3 linked regions of the Homo sapiens genome follow. The protein of the gene in region 2 interacts with the protein of the main gene of each other region in a pairwise test. Each region holds a gene or a part of one and is shown on either strand. Other genes may lie near its edges.

What was found.
Region 1: the proteins of SERTAD2 (region 2) and STRA8 interact in binary tests that used the Homo sapiens proteins (3 or more experiments, as listed by UniProt).
Region 3: the proteins of SERTAD2 (region 2) and IGFN1 interact in binary tests that used the Homo sapiens proteins (3 or more experiments, as listed by UniProt).

The regions. Positions count from the first base shown.
Region 1 is NC_000007.14:135,236,827-135,243,852, reverse strand, and holds part of STRA8 (stimulated by retinoic acid gene 8 protein homolog), read right to left. Parts: intron 4,854-7,026; exon of another isoform or gene 3,335-4,853; 5' UTR 3,329-3,334; coding exon 3,137-3,328; intron 1,073-3,136; coding exon 997-1,072; intron 528-996; coding exon 443-527; intron 1-442. UniProt on the Homo sapiens protein: Meiosis-inducer required for the transition into meiosis for both female and male germ cells.
Region 2 is NC_000002.12:64,650,902-64,658,260, forward strand, and holds the start of SERTAD2 (SERTA domain-containing protein 2), read right to left. Parts: upstream 3,013-7,359; 5' UTR 2,719-3,012; intron 1-2,718. Other genes in the region: uncharacterized protein LOC124907776, read left to right, coding at 3,379-3,810. UniProt on the Homo sapiens protein: Acts at E2F-responsive promoters as coregulator to integrate signals provided by PHD- and/or bromodomain-containing transcription factors.
Region 3 is NC_000001.11:201,186,411-201,193,838, forward strand, and holds the start of IGFN1 (immunoglobulin-like and fibronectin type III domain-containing protein 1), read left to right. Parts: upstream 1-4,413; 5' UTR 4,414-4,497; intron 4,498-6,836; 5' UTR 6,837-6,883; coding exon 6,884-6,890; intron 6,891-7,428.

The DNA of each region.
Region 1 (7,026 bases), on a different chromosome or scaffold from region 2:
GATTGTCATATGTATCCTCCAAGAAAGACATTAGTTGTGGCTTTAAAAAATACATATAGAAAAAGCTATAATATAATGTAAACACTATGGGCTCATTTCTCTAAAGAATAATGTGCAACATTTTTTAAAAACTTGATGGATTTTCTTGAAAATTAACATTGATTTTCTTTGAGTTCTGGGACAATATATATTTTCTGGCTTTTGTGTATTTTCTGCATCTTCTGTGATAAGCATGTATCTTTTTATAATTGGGAAAAAATTGATGCATGTTGCTAGAATAAAAGAGAAACGAATGGTCTCCAGCATATGGCTGTTTTGAATGGTGAGCAGCAGCCCTGATGGTCCTGCAGGCTGGAGAGGAAGGGTGAGTTGCCACCAGACAGTACTGATGGCTGTGAGGACACAGCAGGTCCCCAGCTTCCTGGGGTTTGTGGTGTCTTACCTGTCATTTCCAGAATACATGCTGGCATATTCTTTCTTGACCTCCTCTAAGCTGCTTGCATGCCCATCTTCCAGGTTGAAGGATGCTATTGGGGAGTTGAAGACCAGGAACACAAAGAGAAAAGTCAGGCCTCTGTTGAGTCTCTCCCACCCTTCTGGCCCAGGTGGGCTGTGGGTGGGACCCTGAACCCTCCAGGGTCAGCATTAGGGAGACCAGGGTCCAGTTTTTCCTTCTAGGTGTGAAGGGAGAGCCTTAGACAAGCAGGAGCCCACTTTTCCTCTGGCCTCTGAAGATGAGATCAGGTGCCTTTGGCAGCACTCCAGTAGGGAACTCATCAGAGTCTCATGGCCTGGTGACTCTGGCCAGTCTTGCTGGACTGCAGGCTCACTAAGGACAGGGACCCTCAACATTGGCCCAAGCACAGTTCCTGGCACACAGTAGGCCCTCAATAAATATTTGTTGATTCATTGTAACCCAACTTCTGTTTTCAATAGAAAAACAGATCCAGTTTTCTCCAGGGAGGGAGATGGGGTTGGCAAGTAGTGCTCCATTACCTTTCAGCTTCAGCAAATTATCCAGGGTTTGCTCCAGTTCTGGAATATGACTCTTTGCCTTATTCAGAACCTGCCACTGAGGATAGACAGAGACAATGCTGAAAGCCAGCCTCTCACTGCAGAGACTGATTTTGTGGACCCAGGAATCCCTTCCCAGGGCTGAGGCCACGCTCCCTCAGATGCAAAGTCACATCCCTTAACCTTGTCAGTAAAAAGAATAGGAAGTTTGTTCTGATGCACAGGAGGCAGGAAGTTTTGTTTGTAGCCTAGAAGTGGGTTCTCACCGAAATGCCAAAGGATTTGGAAAGAGTTAAGCTTTGTTCAGCAAATTGCTAGTGCTGTAGAAAGGCAAATGACTACAGAGGCGGCTTGAAGGTGGAATAAGGAGTGATGGAAGAGGCGCATTCTGCATGAACGTCAACCCCAGGCTTGCACAAAGCAGAGCTAGACTTCAGCTCAGTGGTAACCCTGTGCAAAGGGCTAGTTAATATTAAATGTCCTATTCTCCCACTATTTTTATTTGCTAACTGCATACGCTCCAGATGATCTAAAAACTTATCAAATGCTGTCAACCTGAACTCTAAATTTCCCTCTTTCCCTTTTTCCCTCCCTCCCTCTCTCCCTCCCTCCCCTCCCTTCTGCTCCCCTCCCTCCCTCCCCCTTCCTTCCTTCCAACTTCCTTCCTTTTTTCCCTCCCTCCTTCCCTCCTTCCTTCCTCCCTTCCTCCCTTCCAACTTCCTTTTTTCCCTCCCTCCCTCCCTCCCTTCCTTTCCTTCCTTCCTTTTTCTTTCCTTCCTCCTCTTCTCTTCCTTCCTTCTTCCCTCCTTACTTCCTGTATGTAACATTATTAAAGTCAAAATGGTAACAGCAAGATTATTCAAAAACGAGCAATGCTAAAATGGTAACAGCAAGATTATTCAAAAACGAGCAATGCTAAATGTTGTTTGTTAGGCTGACCACCTATATCTGTCAGGGGCTGCATGCATCCCTTGGGCATGTACAAGGGCAAAACTATGTGGTAAGTCCCAGGGATACAGAGTACATAAGACAGTCCCCTCTCTCAGGGTGCTGACCTCTGACAGGGAAGACAAGCATGGAAACAACCCCTTATAACACAATATAGAATTAAGTAGGTACTAACAAGGGGTAGAAGCAAAGGGCTGTGAAAATGTACAAGGAGGAGGGAATAGTCCAACTGGAGGGGTCCAGAAGATTCCATGGAGCAGGGCAGCTGAGCAGAGTGAGCCAAGCCCAGCTTTGAAGTGTGCACAGAATCCCAAAGGCAGAGCTAACTGCATGAGCAGAGACACAGAGGCCATGAGAGGCAGGCCTGGCTCAGGGAACTGCTGCAGTGAGATGTGGCCAGAGTGTGGGGTGGGCATGGAGGGGGGACCCCAAAGCAGCTGGGGGCAGAGTAGCCTGGGATTTGACATTCTAGATTCCAAGGATTCTAGTGGTGCCTAAAAAGGAGACTTGAGGGGGCTGGAGTCACAGTGCTCTGCCAGGCCAAAGAGGAGGTGAAGGGAACCGCAGCTGCATGATGATACAGTGGATTGCAAGCTCCCTGAGCACTCCTATGTGTTTTGCTCTCCCCAGTCCCAGAGCTCATGTTGATGCTGTTGGGTCAGCAAAGACTTGGAACCAGGGGCTGACTGATTTCCAGCATCTTGGGCTTGTTCGTAGGGTGGAAAGATGATTGTCCACCTGCTGTGGTCTGAATGTTTGTGTCCCCCCAAAATTTAGTATGTTGAGACCCAATCCCCAATATGATAGTATTAAGAGGTGGGGGCTTTTGGAAGGTGATTAAGGTGATTGGTGCCCTTATAAAAGAGTCCTGAGGGAACCTGTTTGTCTTTCCCCCATGTGAGAACACAGCAAGATAGCCCTGTCTATGAACCAGAGAGCATGCCCTCACCAGACACCCAATCTGATGGCACCTTTGTCTTGGACTTCACAGGCTTCAGAACCTGGAGCAATAAACTTCTGTTGTTTATAAATTACCCTGTCTAGGGCATTTGTCGCTACCCCAGCAGAAGTGGCAGCTCCAGGCCAGTCCCTGCCTTGCAACACAGTCCCTCCACCTGTGAAAACGTCTCCTTCCCCGTGGAGATGTCCCCTCTCCTCCTCCAGGTCCCCATACCTTTGAGGCTATGAGATCAGACTGAGAGTACACTGTCTTCCTGAGGTTGTTGAAGAGCGCTGCCAGGGTGGCTCGGTGGCGGGCCTGGGACAGCCGTCTCCGGGCCACCCGATGCTCAAGCTCCTGCAGCTGTGCTGGCAGCTGGGGTGTTGCTCTGTCATGGGGATTGCTGTTTTCTTCAGGGGTTGCCATTATAAGCTGTAATGTAATAGTATGCTTTTTTTTTTGCCCTAGATAATAAAAATACAATATTAAAGGAAAAGGAAGGCAAATTGAGGCAGGCAGAAAGGAGGTACCCTTCCCAAGTAAAGGCCCCAAATTCACTCCCTCATGAATTCAGTTATTGGCAAGATTTACAGTGAGAGAAATTTGAGAAGTTTACAAAAGCCCTTTGAAGGTGATGTTGGTCAATTGCTAATTAAGAAAAGCAGATGGAGATTATACAGGGTCAACACAAATTCTGTTTTTGAAATTCAACTCCTAAAACTGCAAACCACCCATATAGGACTTAAGAGTTGAGGGGCCCTGGAACTTACCTGGAAAGGTTCCAACACATTGCAGATACTCACCAGACACTTGTTAATTTCAGGGGTTAATTTTACGCGTGGCCAAGGAGAGCAGCTGTACCCTGAGATCTCAGGCTTTACTTTAGTCTGTTCAAAGCTGAACAGGTACTTGTCCCCACTGTGAGGTCTTTTCTACCTCAAGAATGCCCCCTCTTTGATGTGGATAGTAGTTACACAGGTGTATGCATATGAAAAAAAAATCCCTCAAGGGGTACACTTTAGACTCGAGAATTTTTCTGTGATATACCTCAAGGAAAAACATAAAAAAGAAAATAAGAAAATTCACTTTACCACCTGTGCAAGCAAAAGTCACCTGACGACAGAGAACTGAAACCCATTTTGCCTTATCTTGCCTCTAGTGGGTTCTGGAGATGATCACTGTGTCCTTCTTTGTTACATCTGAGCTTACAAGCCAGAAGCCCTTCCCTAGGAGAGGCGATTCTGGGACTGACATGTAATTGTTTTAATAAGATACAGGGGCCAGGGCCTTTTACCTGAGCCATAGACCCTTCCATCAGGCCTCACCCCACTACTCAGAGATCTACTCCCCACTAGCCTGTCTGCTCTTTGGACAGGGAGGCTGCGACTTCGTCACTTCTGTACCCTCAGTGCGTAACACAGAGCCTGGCCCCCATTAGGTGCTCAGTACTGGAGTTTCTGGTGAATTACAGTGAGCGGTTTCTGCTAGGTCTACTCCCTGCTGAGCTCAGTCCATACAGAGACAATGCATGACCTCCGCCAGGGGTTTGTTAATTTTGAGGTATGTTAGTGTCACCTGCAGAGACTGTTGAAAATACACATGCCCAGGCCCTGCCTTGAAAACATCGGATCTGAACCCAGCGTGCAGCTCCCAGGGTGATTCCTATACTTTCACACTTTGAGAGCCACCGCTAACTCTTGATTTGTGTGTCAAGCATCACCCCAGCTGGCAGCAGCTGGAAACAATCTTCATTAAGGGGTTATGAGGAAGGGAGATGGAAGACACCTTTCCCACTATGCTATAGTATGGAAAATAGGCCAATGAGATGGTAAACCCAATCAGGCAGTGTGGGATGTTGAAACACTTTTTAGCTCAGAAAACAACTTCTCATCAATAATCTGGTCTTCCCCAGTGTATCAACTTTCCCTTGTTTTGCTTTTTGGAACAGGGCAGGAAGATGGGAACAGTGATGCTGTGGTTGCCCATGCTGGTCCGTGCATGTCTCTGTCACATCTGTTACCAGGAATTACACTGTGGTATCTTCCAAGGGAAAACAGCACCAATCTGCAGAGGCCCCTCAAGCCCAGCTCCAGGGTTATGTTAGATTAGAGCCTATGCCTTCATGGTCTTCAATTCCAGATACCAACTAATCTTTAATAGGAAGCAAAGTGAAACTGTGAAGATTTTGAACTGCCCAGGGAAAATGAGAACCTTTTGAACAGAAGAATATAGGTTTTTTTTGTTTTTTGTTTTTACTTGTTTAAATTAAGGAGCAACAGATGTGTCTGGACACCAGGGGATTTAGGTTAACATACAGAAAAAGGGAAGCGGGTGGGAAGCACTGTTCTAGATGAACAGAGATATAAAAATAACAGGGTCCTCCCAGGACCTCAAGTTCTCTAACAGTCTCAGGATACTAACACCAAAGGCCTCTGGGCTTGTAGGGAATCTGGAGTTCTCCCAATGCCAGTGCTGGGTGTCCTCCCTTCTGCCCAAACACGCTCAGCCTGAAATTCCTGGATGGCTGTGTGGACAGTTTCAGCCCTGGACAAGAGTGCAGTCCTCTGCCTCCCCCATAGGGGGCAGACTTCCCACCAGTCGCCTCTAGGAGCCGCCAGGGCTGCTCGCCCCTAGGGGCGGGGACAGCCCCAGAGCATGCTGGCCAAGCTGCCTGGAGCCGTGGCCTCCATCTTGCCTGCCCCCAGGCGCCCCCTGGTCAGGAGCTGGGGGAAATTTACACCCCCGCCCCCCCTTGGCTCAGGGAGGGGGCACACCGCAGGAAAGATGGGAGATGACCCTCCTACTCTGCTTTAAGGGCAGAATCAAGCGCTGGAGATGTTACTCTTAATTAGACCTTGAGCGATTTTCAATGTCTTCCCTCTAGATCCTGCCTCCTGTTCACTACTAGGAACCACTGTGCTATGTATGATCCGCACAAGGCATTCTTTCCTAGTTATTTCGATTGACTTGGAATTTTTTCCGTCTCTGTGGCCCTGACAGGGTCTTAGGTAGATCTTTGTTAGACTGAGCTCTTTTTTTTTTGTTTTGTTTTTTGTTTTGAGATGGAGTCTGGCTCTGTCGCCTGGGTTGGAGTGCAGTGGCGTGATCTCGGCTCACTGCAACCTCTGCCTCCCGGGTTCAAGCGATTCTCCTGCCTCAGCCTCCTGAGTAGCTGGGATTACAGGCGCCCACCACCACGACTGGCTAATTTTTGTATTTTTAGTAGAGACGGGGTTTCACCGTGTTGGTCAGGCTGGTCTCGAACTCCTGACCTCCTGATCCGCCTGCCTCGGCCTCCCAAAGTGCAAGGTTTACAGGTGTGAGCCACCACGCCCGGTGGACAGAGCTCTTTTTATCTAATAATACACTTGGGTCTGTCCCGTCAGCACCTGTGATTTGTGTGAAGGGCTGGCTCGCCTGGAAGAAGTGCCTCAGAAGTTACTGTCTAGGATGGGGAGAGGAGGGCAGGACCCTCCGCCTTATTCCAAGATTAGCCGTTTGGCTAGGAAGGGGGAATGAAACATACTGTGAAAGGGGGAGCTAACTATTGTAAAAATGAGATCAAGAAGTGATCTGTTACTTAAAAACAAAACTCGGCTCTCCTAAAAGCCCTCTGCAGTTGCAAAGTATGTCAAAGAAACTGCTCCCAGCAGTGTAAGGAATTATAGCAGTGTAGAGAAAACAGTCTGGAACTCTCCTCCCTAGGGCCTGGAACTGCATTTTAATAGCCTTGAAAACTCAGAATCTCCCAATTACCCCTTTGGTTTGCTCCCCTGCTCACCAATATTTATTCCATGACCCACTGCCCCTTCTTCCATCTATAATACCATCTCTCTCTGCCCCTGTCTTCAGTTTCTATGGATCTAGAGCCAACTTGCCCTTCCCAGTTTAAGTCCCAATTCCTTTAATGAGCTTCCCAGTCCCAGGCCACACTGGTTTCTAACTCAATCATGTTCTGGCAACAACTAAGAAAAATCTTTGATCGGCACCTGTGTGTCAAGCATCAGTTGTGTCCCTCCCAGGAAGTGGTACCATGCATAGACATAGATGATTAACTCAAGCTTCCCTTTCTTGGCTGCCTCTCCCACACTAAAACCACTAAGAATTCTATTGCCTGGACTACT
Region 2 (7,359 bases):
TTCAGTACACAACTGATCTTTGGACTCAGTAATCAGAGACGGCGCCTGCGCTTGCTCTCTCTCTCACGCACCAAGTAACTATTGCAACTAGAGCTATCTCCTATAGGATATGCCATGACAGTGAATACAAAATTTCTGTTGCCAAGAAGCTTTAAAAATTCTATGAGTGAATTAAAGTTCATGGCCCCAAATACGCCTATCTATATATAGCTTTTTCCACAGGTAATATTGACAAAGTGGTCTTGATTCTGTTGATATATGTGAAATATAAAATAAAGCTTCATACTTTTTTTTCTGTGCTTTTTAACAAGAAACCACAGCAAAAGAAACCTCTCAAAGTTTCTGTTCCAGCTTTCACCTTTCTTAGTTACTAAAATGTAAAATATTTTGTCTGAGGGTAAACTTGTAGTATAATTGGACACTGATAATAAAAGTAGCATGCTGCAAGTTGATAGAAATTTTTATGTATTTGCATTCGAACATCTTCAAACTGCCTTCATACGTTTTGTAATGTTTTTTGTGTGTGATGCATGTGTGTGCCTTTCTAAAGTAGTGTTGTAACTTACTCTGCCATTGGAACCCTGTTTAAAATAGCAGATACCATAAGCTATCAGTCGCCACACAAATTTGAATGAGTTTTAAAATATCAAAATATGTGCTATTTTACTAGGCTCATTATCAGTAATAATTCAGTGTGTAGCAACTGGGCAAAATTCATATTTTAGCTTCTCAATTAAATAGAAAAGCTTTAAAGAGGGACAATTCAGCAAACAGAAGTGTAAAGATTTTCTAAATCTGAATTAATATCCTTCTCTTAGTTCTTCAAGGGAAACAAGCTTGAGCAGCTGTTACCTAAGACGCTGTGACATTCGCCTGACAATAAAACCGTTCCCTAGGACACCTCCTGTCACACATACACTTGGTTGGCTTTACAAAATGTGAGTCCTCTCCCTTACCTGTCTGAATGAAGTAAGGAAAAGGGCCGGGTGTTAAGGAAAAAGGGGGTTGGGGGATGTCAAATCCAAAATAAGATTTCTCATCTGAGAACAACATGGTTATGTATATTTTAATTAGGGGGTGAAACAAGTAAAAAAAAAAAACTGTTAAAGGATTCCAAACTTAATGAACGACATAAACAATTTTATATTAACATATAATACCCCTCTAAAGAAGTCAATGAAGCTAAAGGAAAACTTTTAAACATTTGTCTCTTTTAAATAAAAAGAAAAAAAACCCTGAAAAAATAAACAGAAAAGCAGAGATCCACAAACAAACTATTCTTGTTCACTCCAGAAGTTGGGATCTTAGGATGGATATTTTCATCTTCACAGCACACCCTAGCACACTCATATCAGAATAGACTGCTATAAAAAGGGGGAGGGATGGGAGCTGCCAGGGTGAGACATGCCTTCTGCTGAGCTGAGCAACTACCCCCAACCCCCATCGGCCAAGCAGCCCAGACGCTCTCAGGTGGACGGTCCTTCAGGGGCGGAGCGAAGCCCAAAGCCCACTTCACTCTTGTCAGGGACTAGTCTCTAACTACAAAAAGCTACTGTGAACACTTAGGGCCTCAGGAATCCTGGTGACTACAACTTCTAGCCTCTTTACACACATTATGGATATTTCTTAACATACATTGGGAAATCAAAAAGCGTATTTCATGAACAAAGCTTGAAAACATGTACTCTCTACCCTAAGCCCAACTGAGGCTGCCCAATTCGATTCAAATAAAAACTGCTGTGGTCTGAGGCTGGCTGTCTCACTCTGCTGACTGTCCTCCCCATTCAGTGTCTGTGAAAACTTACTTTCTACCTCCTGAAACGACTCGGCTTGCAAGCAAAAAGTTATTCCAATGCAAACTATACCTGATATTTTCGTGAAACTTAGAAACTAAACCTAAAACTCGACTCCCATCGCAATCTATTACTACCACTTCTGCTAAAGGTAACTTATAGCCAAGAAAACAAAACAAAATACGATTTTCTGTCCATGTAGTGGCCCTGTGACGACACCCCCTCTCTTACTGGTACAAAGTCTAGGGCTTGGGACAGCTGGCTCCCCTCAGCCCCCTCCCTTTCAGTCATAGGCGGTTACCACGAAGATGACTTGTAGATTTCTAACTTAAAAACCAACGAGACGTTAAGTTTAATATACATGTAGATCCCAAATCAATTCATTTGGGCATGGACGAAAGAAAAGAGGGTGGAGAGGAAGGTTTTCAACATTATTAAAAAAAACACCGGGAAATTCACAAAAACGCACTACAGTAAGTTGGATGCAAACCCGGCCACGGAACTCAAAAGTGAAGCAGCCTTCGCGCCAGCAATCCGAGCCTTAAAAAAAGTCTCGCACGTTCACAACAACACAACCGCCACAACGCGCACACACATCCCAGCTGTAGAGGCGACAGCTCCAGGCGCCCCCGCCCGCCGCTCGGCTCTCCGAGCTCCCGACCCCCTCCTGACCCCGGCCCTGCCCCCCAGCGGCTCAGCCCGCAGGCGCCGGGGGTCCGAGAGCGCGGGGCCCGGACCGGGGCCGCGGGAGGGAGCGCTCCTCCCGTACCTGCTCCGTCCCCGGCTCCCTCCCGCGGCGGCGCCCGGCCCCTCCTCCGCCCTCCGGGCTCTCCCAGCCCTGGCCGAGTCCCAACACCGGCCCCCCATCCACCCGGAGCCCCCCGCGCCCGCGGATCCCCTCCAGCCCGACGCCGGGAGAACTTACCACATGCAGCTCCACCTGGGAACTAACGCATCAGGAGGGGTTTCCGCCCACTCCTCAGCTACTCCCGCTCCATGCGGAGTGCCCCGCTCCAGGGGCCCGAGGGTGGCGCCGGGGAGCGGGCAGCAGGCGAGGCTGAAGCTAAGACTCCGCCGTTCTCTGCCTGCGCGCCCCGAGCATTATACAATGGTGGAGGCGGCGGCGGCAGGCAGCGGAGGAGGAAGCAGGAGGCGGGCGGAGGGGGCGCCCTGACCGAGCGAGCGGTACGTCGTGCTCCAGCACTCGCCGTGCAGGAGTGACGTGCGGCCCGCGAGCCTCCCGCGAGCTCCGGGCCCCGGCGCCGCAGGCCCCGCCCCTGGCCGCCCGACCCCGCCCCCGCCGGCCCCGCCCCGGCCCGCCTCTCCCCGGCGGTCCCGGGAGGCGCGATAAAGGCCGGGGCCGGCCGCGGCCGGCCGCGGCCGCAGGAGGAGCAGGAAGGGGCGGCGGGGCGCAGTGGGCGCCTGGTGGCAGCGCCGCCCCCAGCTCCCTGCCGGGCCGGCGCGCCCCTGATTTTCTCGTAAGGACGGGCTGAAAGAGGAGGGGAGACAGAAGGAGACACTCCGGCCCGAGGACCACCACTGCCACTAGTAACGCCCCCTACACACTCTAGAAGTGCTCAGGCGAATGACGAAGCGGCTGGTGACAAAGGCGGCGGCGAGTGCAGCGCGTGCACAGCCCGCGGAGCCGCGCGACCGCAAATATGACAAGCATTTGAGCTATTTGGCAACGTGGGGCCGGTCAGCGGGGCGGGCAGGGTCCCCGCGGGGGGCGAGGGGCAGAGAGCTGGCCCGGGCGCCCGTCTCGCTGCCTGCAGGGGTTCCTGGGCGGGGGTCCGCTGCGGGACACTCCTCCGAGGCCCGCACTGGTCCGAACGGCAGGATGGGGGCTCCAGCCGTGAGCCGGGGACAGAAAAAGTCCCTTGCCCGCGTGGCCTCAGCCCGACACGAGAAGTGGGTCACCAAGTCCACGGCACTTTGGGAGCCGGACCGAACGAGTTGCATCCTTCGGGGCCGGCCGGGGCTCGGTGCAGACCCGGCAGGAGGGAAGCCAAGCTAGGAGACGCAGCCAGGTCGGAGGCGCAGTCCTCTGCCCACAAGTTTCACATTGATAGCCTTTCCCTCCCGTGGAGTAAGCTTATGCTTGGAACTACTTAAATTTACCAGGGAAATTTATACTAGTTGGAAGAGAATGTGTGTATGCCCAAATGGTGAGAATTTAAGAGCACTAGGGAAAGAGGCCAGATAGATGGTTCCACTGGAAAATTAATGATTATTTTAAAAATTACACGTGCATTCAGCGTCAAGATGTAAAAGGCAATGCAGGCAGGCACCTTAAAATTTTGGCTGCCACCCCAATCAATATCATTTCAGATCACTTTGGAGTTTAATGGTCCACTATACTAGTTGTATTTAAGAATAATAAAGCTTTAAGACCTAACATAAAGGCGATTGTAAGTCGTTAACATCAAGAGAAATTTAGACTTGTTTAAACTGTTCTGTAATGATTTGTTATCAATCAAATTGATGATCTCATCGAAATTAAACTTGTGCTGAAATGTTGATAGAGGAGACAACGCTTCTTGTTTTATCTTTAAGGAGGATGGAAAAGGTTTTTACTGGACCCTCAGTATAATTAAAGTCTTATACAGTATAACCTAAGCCAAAAGCTAATTATTTGTGGATATCTTTGCAAAGTCTCATTATAATGGCATTCAAAATGACATATTATGGAAGCTGTGCTCACCGGCCCTCTGCAGGTCTTGCTCAGTTTGCGCCTGAGTGGCATAACATTCAAACATTTTGCTGTGAAGCGAAGATATTTTTCATTTCCAGAGTTCTGCAGTTTAGAGAGGGCATTAACTACTAACAGTTTCCTAACCACCCACTCACTTATACTTTCAGTGCTCACTTTAAGGAAAAGCCATTGAAATAGAAGCTGCAATAATCTCTTCCTGTGATATCTTTGTAGAGGAGGCCAGAGGCATTAGCTCTGTTGAATTTAAGGTGAATTTAAACTGCTATTTGTGAATTTAAACTGCTATTCTTGAATTAAAGTAAGCAGGAAGTTACACTTGCAGAACTTTTGTGACACTTGGATATTTTCTAGCAAATAGATTACACCAAATGCAGTGTTTCTGTATAAAATAACAGGATTTAAGTCAAAGTGACAATTTTGTGTCACTAGGATAGACAGGATTCTGCTGAAGTCCATAAGGTCTGTATTCTGTACCTGCTCAAACAAAGGTTTGCGCTCTTAACGAGACCAGCAACCTGCGTTTTTGGAGTGAAATAGTTTCCATCTCTTTATACCTCTGAAGGCTGTAACATCTTATCAATGTACACATTACAAATAGCTCCCACTTCCCCCACTTTTAGAATCTGGCATCTTTGACCAAGAAGTTAAAGTGAGCTGGCAGTTTCAACAGCTGCCAATGTGGTTAACACCAGCTGGTTAACCCTCTCCCTCCCCTTATGCAACCCCCTACCCCAAGGCTGAGCCACACATAGGCCAGGACAGCAATCTCTACCCAGCCCTAGAAATTCAAGTCTATGAGGATAAGGAAAGGCACTTTCCACACTTCTGAAGTCAGCTCCCTTCAGTATGCAATGACATGATTTGAAATATTTATTCAATAAAATATTATTTCAAATCATGTCATTGAATAAGCAGTGTTTAGTGAATATGTAAATTTTGTTCTCACTCTTTGGGAGATTTAAAAGCCCATTTAAGGGCTGGGTGCAGTGGCTCACACCTGTAATCCCAGCAATTTGGGAGGCCTAGATAGAAGGATCACTTGAGGCCAGGAGTTGACCATTCTGGCCAACATAGCGACACCCCCATCGCCACAAAAAATGAAAAAATCAGCCCTGCATGGTGATGCATGCCTATAGTCTTAGCTACTAAGGAGGCTGAGATGGGAGGATTGTTTGAGCCCAGGAGTTCAAGGTTGCAGTGAGCAATGACCACACCACTGCATTCCAATGTAGGTGAGATCTTGTCTCAAAACAAAATCCCATTTAAAATAATCCTACTCTGAGGGCCTCATCCAGAATTTAGAAGATCTGCCTCTCACTTTCATATAACATAACTTTAGAACAGTTATAAGAAATTAGGCTAGTCATCCACATTTAACTACCAGGAACATATCTGTTTAGGGAGAAAAGAAACATTTCTTTTATAAGTATAGAACTGTGATGGTAAATTTTAAAAATGCTCCTGAGTTTAATTTCAGAGAAGTACTTCTCGGCATCATTTTGTAGTTCTGGGTACTAGTTTACACTTCACTGCTTCTCCTTTGAAAGTTTCTGTGCCCTCACATCTTATAGACTAGTACACTAGTGCACTAACTGAAGGCCACTTTTGGCACTTAATTAGCACACACCAAAAACACAAGGGGCAAACTGGGTATATAAACTGAGAAACAAAGACTTTACAACAGGTTTTGAACTTAATTTCATTTTTCCTTTGCTTTTATTAAATTTTTATCTTTCAGGTTCCACCTGAAATGCCAGTAATGATCATCCATCTATATACCTTGCAAATATTGGTCTTGGTTTTATGGCAAAAAAGATAAATGTTTCAGTTATTAAATGAATTGTATAGAGCCAGCTAGGCTAAATAAGCTTTTCATGGAAAATACGGAGATCCTAACTGTGGACTCATCATTCGGATAAATGAATATTGGAATAAGTCTTCAAAATAAAGTTCTGGAAGTCACATCACCTAACTGATTAGCAAGGAGTCAATAGAGGATACAATGATTTGGAAAAGTAAATACTCTCGCAAAGATGGCACAGGCAGATTCAGTCCTTTTCAGCCACTAACAATTTAAAACAATTCTATTGAAGCAGCAAGTGAACTCCTCTACTTCTGCAAACTTTTCTCCATCTCTTCTTCCACCTGCTTTTGTCATGGTTTTTTTCTGCTCCTCCCTGAAGTCACAATTCATAAAAGCAGAACTACAGCTCCAGTGAAGGCCCCTTTGCAAAGCTTTCCATGTTGTTACATTGAACTGCTTTGCAACGACTGCTTCTTACCTTCTGAGGGAGGTTTCACTTGTCTGTTAAAGATATACCTTTTTCTCTTTTAAAAATCTGACAATATGTAAATCTAAACCTGAAACACAATCTTCATGGCAATATTTAAAGAAAATGCTTTTAAAACCATTTCCTTTTTTTCTAGCACTTGGGGTCAGTCCCTTCGAACTATTACTGGAGAAGATGGCTTCTGTTAGGCATCAGCTTCCTTCCTATTCCATTTTCCACTGAATCTTCAAAAGCCTTGTGCAGTCTATCAAAATGCAAAGAACCTTCTTGGTGACTCTGACAACTCCAGGGTTCCCTCCTGTAGGGACACTACTCCACTAAGACTGGTGGTCACTTCTCAGAAACATCTCCCATCCCCAGCTCCCTACACAACACACATTGCCTCTACGCATCGACTATGTATTTATTCCTGTCTATAAGCCATCCATCATTCTTGAGAAGTTCCCACTCTTCTCAAGGCACTGAGCACACTTCTAGCTTCCACAGAAAATTTCAATGAATGTTAGAAATTGCACAGACCTTTCTTGCCCCCAGGAACCAGCCTGGTGACAGGAAAAGT
Region 3 (7,428 bases), on a different chromosome or scaffold from region 2:
CTCTGTAAAATGGAGATATGTTTCTACGTCATAGGGTGTTATGTGGGCTAAATGAAATAACCCATGTAGAAAACATCACACAGTAGGTTGGGGGCCTGTGAGTACTGTGATTTGCCTGATTATATGAAAATAGGCAAGTGTCCCTGCAAAACGACAATGCAACATTAGAAACCTGAGTGGGTTTGCATCTGTTTAGCTGGAGTGGTTTATTTACCTCCTCACCACCTGATGGAGATTTGAAGGGAGCAGCTTTCTGGAATGACTTGGGGTTTGGTGCTTCATTCCCACGAGGAGGCGAATCTGGCTGCAAAACACTTCACTGTGTGCCTTCCAGGAGGAAACCACTTCTCTCCAAGCCCCAGTGTCCATATCTGAAAAGAAGCGAGTTGGATTGGATCCACAGGACATTGGTCGTTAAGAGTGTAGACTTGGCACTGGATGGCCTTGGTCCACATCCTGGCTCTGCCACTCACTAGCTGTGTGACCTTGGGCAAGTTACATAATGTCTCTGTATCTCAGTTTCCCCTTCTGTAAAATGGGGTTAGTGATCAATTCTGCCTTTTGGATTTGTTGTGAGGGATTAAATGAGTTAACATAACTAAAGATTCAAAAGAATATCTGGCATGTAGCAAGAACTCTATCAGGGTTAAATACTGTTGTTACTGCTATAATGTTATTGCTGTTGTTAGATGCCCTCAATGGTCCTGTCTGGCTCTGACATTCTGTGAGAGTCTACACTGCCTCAATAGACTGAAGCCTGTTGTGGCTCAGCCATTCCTGGAAAGTGGAGTGGGATTTCCTCCCCAGCTTCTCCTCATTGAGGGTCCAAAGGACCCCCTCCTGTAGCCCTTGCGCCAGCTGAGCCTGCTGGACTAGGCCCTTCCAGATTAGGGATTGGCTCCTGACTCAAGTTTCTCTGTCACTGAAAGCCAGCTTTGCAAACATGAAATTACCCTTGGGGTCTCCAAGGTCTTCTTTCCCATGAGGCTACATGGGATTCATTACACTGCAGGTGAGGTGAGAAAGACATGAACTAAGGCTGACACATGGGCTGGACTGGAGATAGGGAGGAATATCGGCTAGGCAGGCAGCTGGGGGGCAGAGTGGATGGTTCAAGGGAGCAGGTGGACTGGAGGGCATCCTTGACCGTGGCCAAGGAGGATGGAAGGAAGCACAGGAGGGGTGTTGTTTGTCCACTGGTCCTCCCAGCTCCATCTTCCTGGGTAGGGACTGTGGTTGAAATAGAATCTTATGCCCTAGCTCCAGGCTTAGAGAAGGCCCCTAGTCTCTGAAGACATCTCCACAGGGCAGCTCATAGTCTTCTACCTTTCACAAAGACCTGCTCTGTTGGTGTTGTGTGGTGTATGTGTATGTTTGTGTGTGAGCATGTTTGCATGTCTTTGATTAGAATCTTCCTCTGCTAACCCATCTACATGGACCCCATTGGGTGCAAGAGAGGACACCCTCCCCTGGACAGCACCCTCAGTGACTCACCCAGCTGGGACAGAACCAGTTTTACACCAAGCATAGAGGCAATGAACGCCTGTGAATGAATTTAAACTCTCTCCTGAGTCACATGGACTGCTTTTCAAGTCCACATGGCCTTCCCCATTCAGTCACAGGACTGTGGAAGGTTCAAATTGGCCAGGATCTCAGAGATCATCTCATCTGACCCATGCCATCAGGAGTAAAAGGGTCCCAAGAGAGGCCTTTATGGGGCCTGAGCCTCTTGGTACCTGCCATATAATGCATTTCGTTCTTGTGGGGACAGGAGAGCATTAATGAATTCTGAACCTATCCCTACCCAAAGTCCCTGAGCCCTTTCCATAAGGCACTGAGGAACAATGAATAATGCACACAAATTCACTGCCCAGAGTTCTTTTGACATGGATATTCCCCTAATCGATGAAGGTAAGGTCTTGTGTCTTTTTTTTTTTTTTTTTTGAAACGGAGTCCCACTCTGTCACCAGGCTGGAGTGCAGTGATGCGATCTCAGCTCACTGCAACCTCCGCCTCCCGGGTTCAAGCGATTCTCCTGCCTCACCTCCCAAGTAGCTGGGACTACAGGCATATGCCACCACAGCCAGCTAATTTTTGTATCTTTAGTAGAGACGGGGTTTCACCATGTTGGCCAGGATGGTCTCAATCTCCTGACCTTGTGATCTGCCCGCCTCAGCCTCCCAAAGTGGTGGGATTACAGGCATGAGCCACTGTGCCCGGCCAGGACTTGTCTCTTTATCTCCCAAAGGAAAAGTCTATCAGGAGGTGTAATAAGATTATACCCTGGGAAGTGGTGGTGGATGGCTGGCGATCCAGACATAGCTAAATATTACTGGACACTACATTTGATAGAGGATAAAGTGGGGAGAGTGGTAAAAACTGTGTAACTCATTCTCAGTTCCTTGGAGTCCCGAAATTTCCATTTTATTGCAACGATAGGGATCCATGTATGACACAGCGCAGAGAGGAGTAGGTCCCCTAATGTGGGCTGCTGTTAAAACATGGAAAATGGGGTGAGTGTAGTGGCTCATGCTTGCCATTCCAGCACTTTGGGAGGCCGGCATGGGAGGATCACTTGAGCCCAGGAGTTTGAGACCAGCCTGGGCAACATGGCAAGATCTCATCTCTGTTTAGGAAACAACAACAACATCATGGAAAATGGAGGCCAGTTAGCAGGGCACACCTTGACTCGTGGATCTGCAGGCCATCCCCAGGCCCCAGGGAAGAGCACATGGGCTGTCTAGGGGGGCAACAGAGGCACGTGAAATGCTAAAGGCTCTGCATTGGGCCATGTTCACAGCCTCCTCCTTCCCCCTCCTGGAATGATGCAGCCTCCTCCTTCCCCCTCCTGGAATGATGCAGCATTGTGGCTCAGGAGGCCCCTGGAGCTCAGGGCCCCACCATGAGAAAGAACACCCTAGGGTGTTCTCCTGGGACTGCACTCCTGGGAGGTAGACTCCTGCCTCTCACTTTCTCCTTCCTCCAATCCCTTCCATTTCTGCAGCCAGAATGAGTTCTTCTAAAATGCAGATTGGATCCTGTCACCCCTCCAGCTTAAACAAACCTCAGTAACCTTTACAATAGAGATCAAAACTCTTCAATGGCCCCCAAAGCCTACCTGTCCAAACTCAACTCTCACTGCCACTCTTTCCCTTGCTCTCCAAGGTCCAGCCCTCCCCTCACACTCTCCATTGTCTCCTTTGGAGCCCCTACATCTACCTGCCCCATTAGACTGTGAACTTCATGATGGGAGGGCCCTGTCACTTGCTTACCTTTGTATTCCTAGGGCTTAACACAGTGCCAGAGCCAGGGCTCAACCCACGGTAGGTGTTCAACACATGTTTGTTGAACAAATGAAAGACCAGCCCTGACACTCAGAAACACACAGGGAGGACACACAAATGTATGTGTGTGTGCATGCATGCACACACATACACGTACTTGCGCAGAAGAGGTCAAACACCTCCCCTCTCGGAGCACATCCAGAGGTAGCGCCTGTAGAAATTGGCAAGATGCTAATCAACACATGTAAATATTCAGTGTCCTCCCCTGGATGCAAACATTCACCCCATTTCCCTTCTACTTCACCTGAATCCTCAATCAAGCCTCGCTTATGGGTGGCAACAAAGCAGTTCTCTGTCCTTAAGGAGAGAGAAGGTGGCTCTTTCAAAGCACACCAGGTGGCCTTATCTCCTGGGCCTCACCTGCCCTCCACTCTCCTTAAGAAAATCTGTTACCAGCCATTGTATTTCCAATTTCCACTTGCCATCCATCTGTCCGACCAAAAACCCAACCATCTGCCCTGCCGACTTCGCCCCCAACCCTGCTGGTCAGGTCACCCCTTCTGTTCCTTGAAAAGCTCCTGAGCAAGCTCACCTTCTCCAGCAGGCCTGCTGACTACACAGTTCCCAGGGTCTCCTCCTTCCTGGTCACTCTCGGTGGACTCTGTGTCTGTGACTCCGTTAATGGCTGCCTTCCCTCCCACTCCCAAAGTTTGCTGCCTGTTTGATACCACTTGGAGGTGTGATTCCCAAGAGGGCAGTGGCTTATGTATCTGTGTGACTTATGGTGTCAAAGGTCCCAAGGGACCAGCTTAGCTGAAAAGTTAAGGGTTTGGATGATGAAAATGTCCTTGCTAAAAAGGGTCGTATAAATGAGGCTTCATGGGGCAAATTTACACTAAGCCAGTCTGGTTAAGAGCTTAAAGCTCTGCAAAGCGAGGAGTTGGATGGACTGATGTCACAGGACCCTTCCATCTCTGACCTCCTCTGAGCTAGAATGTTAGCCCTGGGGGCCTTGCCCTGCCAAGCCTGGACTGGAGGAGAAGGAGGAGGCGGGGTGAGTGGGAGGGGCAGAGGGAGCAGAGGCGCCTGCAGCAACCGACACCTGCTCCAGCCCTGCCTGTCCACTACCAGTCAATCCAGAGCCTCAGCAAGCAGCAGCTGGAAACGGGGAAGAGGGAGCAGACAGGAAGCGGGAGGTCAGCTGTACACCCAGGTAAGTGGGTGCTCACACCTGGCTGCCCACCCGGGCCAGGGTAGGGCCAGGATGGAGACACTAGCCTGCTGTCCAGCTTTTCTACGCAGGAAGGGGCAGGCAGTGGGCAGGATGTCTGCCTGGGGAACATTCCCTGGCTGGCGGATCACACGCTGGGGTGCACCTGTATCCCCTCTAGGTTACTCCAGGATATCTGGAGGAGAGAATTTCAGTGTGTCCTGTCTGGGCATTTCTGTCCTGGCTCTAATTTTCTGGACACGGCTTGACTTTGGGTGTGATACGATGACCAGATTAAAAATATCACTAGCAGTCCAGAATAAGGACCTCGGGCTGGGACTTGTTATATTTTGGTTAGTATCATGGTCAAAGCAGTTGAGAGAACTCCATTTGGCTCTTCCTGCCTCAATTTCTACCAGTTGAGAGGTAGCAGGGACCAACTGGAGGTAGCAGGGACCTGGATGTGCAGGATGGATCCGGGGAGGGTAGGGAAAAAGGATGGGGAGCCATAGGTCCTGGAGAGGGGGCAGGGAGGGACTGTCCCAGGATCCAGTGCTGAGAGTGTTGTTGGGACAGCTGAAGTGAGGACACAAACTGCTGTTTCCTTCTGGGAAGAACTGGAGTTCTTCTCAAATGTGGGAATGAATTATGGAGGAGAGAATTCATTTCCTTTCTCATCCCTTCCAACTGAGACTACATCCCTCTAGTCTCCAATCCAACAGATCTCTTTCCCTGTGTCATTGACTTTGTACCAAATCTGGCTTATTCTAAAAGAGAGTGGAGCTCCAGAAGTGGATGCTTAACGTCACATCCCTAAGTTCCCCCAAGAGCTTTGCTTCTTTTGCCCTCCTCTGCTGGGAGCTGTAGGCAGGAGGCTGGAGGGAGAAGAGTGGTATCAGCGTCATCCTTCTTCATGTGTGACCAATAGCTGAGTAACAGGATGATAGCTGCTCGTGGTGATGATGTGGGTGACGATGGGGATGATGACTCAGATAGCTGTGTTGAACTCAAACTACTCCAGTGTGGGGGTCACCGACTGGCACCAGTGCACTTGCATCTACCAGGAGGCTGCACTGAGGGGTGGGTGGGATGGGGGCCCTTGCAGCCCTCCCCCTGGCCGTGTCCAGCTGGGTCCTCATCCGTTGGTGGCTGCCTTCCCTCCCACCCTTCCTCGTGACTCCCTTCGGCGTAGTGCCTGTGGCACCCGTGACCACTCCAGAACGCAGTTGGCGTACCATGGCATTCCAGCACGCTAGGGTGCAGCGGCTGGGCTGGCGAGGGGCTGCCAGGGGTCAGAAGTGCCAGTGGGTGGCCGTTGCGAAATGGAATGATCTCCATGGGAGAGAGGAATTTGCTCTGTCATGTGTGATTCTATATTAATGATAAGGCTCTTTGGGCAGAAAATGGAGTCCCCAAAATGGAACCGCTTGGCCATGGGCCAATCGCACAGAGGGTGGGACTGCTGGAAGATTCTTTCAAGACATCCCCCCTCCCTGATTTATGGCTCTCATCCCACCCCAGACCCAACCCCCTTCCTCTCCTGTGTGGGACTCCCCATTGGCCATAACAGATGGATGCAATTAAGAGGAAATCAGGAGAGATGGTGGTGGTGAGAGAATGGAAAATACTCCTATTCACCTGACACTATAATTCACTGGCTTCTGAGGGGAGCAGATGGATTTATGGGGATCCTACAGGCCTGGGCCAAGAAGAGCTTAAGAGCAGCAAATTTGAGGCCTCTCCCCTGCAGACCTTGTGACTGGAAGGATTCTAGATTGGTGGAGCGTGGGAAGTAGAGGGCTTCAGTGTCCTGCCAGAAAATCTCAGAGTTGGGGGAAGAGCCAGGAGGCCCAAAGAATGTCCTTGGAGAATTCCCATTCCAAAGCCAATGGGGCAAGCTGAAAGGAGCCTGAATCCTTTCACAGCTGAAATCCTTTCACAGCTGAATCCTTACACAGCTGAAAGGATCCTGAATGGGTCTGATTTCCTCAGGTTTGGGAGGGTTGTGTCTCATGTTCTGGGCAGGGTAATCAGGTCTGGGGTCCCACCAGGAGGCCAGGCCACCAGCACAGTGTGCAGGCTCAGCTTATGGTTCCCTTTACCTGGGAATGTTACCAACTGGGTAGCATGCTACCCACTCCCTGGTCTCTGGGAAATTGGTTTTGCTGGGGACAGGGAATTGCAGGAAACTAATCAGTGCCATTAGTGGGTTAGAAAAGCTCTTGGGGGCAGCAGCTTTTTCCAGCTCCCACCCCAGACATTGGCTGATGCACTGATGGTGTGGGAGGGGTGGGGTGAGACCAGCCTGGATTTCTCAAAAGCAATTCCATTTCTGTTCTCAGGGTAATAGAACTTCTACCCTCAGAGGAGTCAAAGAGGAGGCAGAACTATGGCAGGTAAGAGAAGAACTAATCTCCCCTCCCCAGCCCTCCCTGGCGATCCTTACCAGGACAGAGAGGAGAGAAGTGGTAGGGATCAGAGATTTCTGGGAACTTGCCCATCTTGTTGTTGTTTTTTTTCTCCTTATTTTATTTTATTTTATTTTTATTGTTGTTGGCTTTTTTTGAGACAGAATCTCACTCTGTTGCCCAGGCTGGAGTACAGTGACGCGATCTCAGCTCACTGCAACCTCCACCTCCCAGGTTCAAGTGATTCTCCCACCTCAGCCTCCTGAGTAGCTAGGATTACAGGTGCCTGCCACCATGCCTGGCTAATTTTTGTATTTTTAGTAAAGGTGGGGTTTCACCATGTTGGTCAGGCTGGTCTCGAATGCCTGACCTCAGGTGATCTGCCCACCTCGGCCTCCGAAAGTGCTGGGATTACTGGCGTAAGCCACCGTGCTTGGCTTTTTTTTTGAGTCTTGGCTTTGGGTTTTGATTTGTTTTCCTGAGTAAGGAGTGCAAAGCCCCCACACGAGCTCCTGCTTCTTGGCTT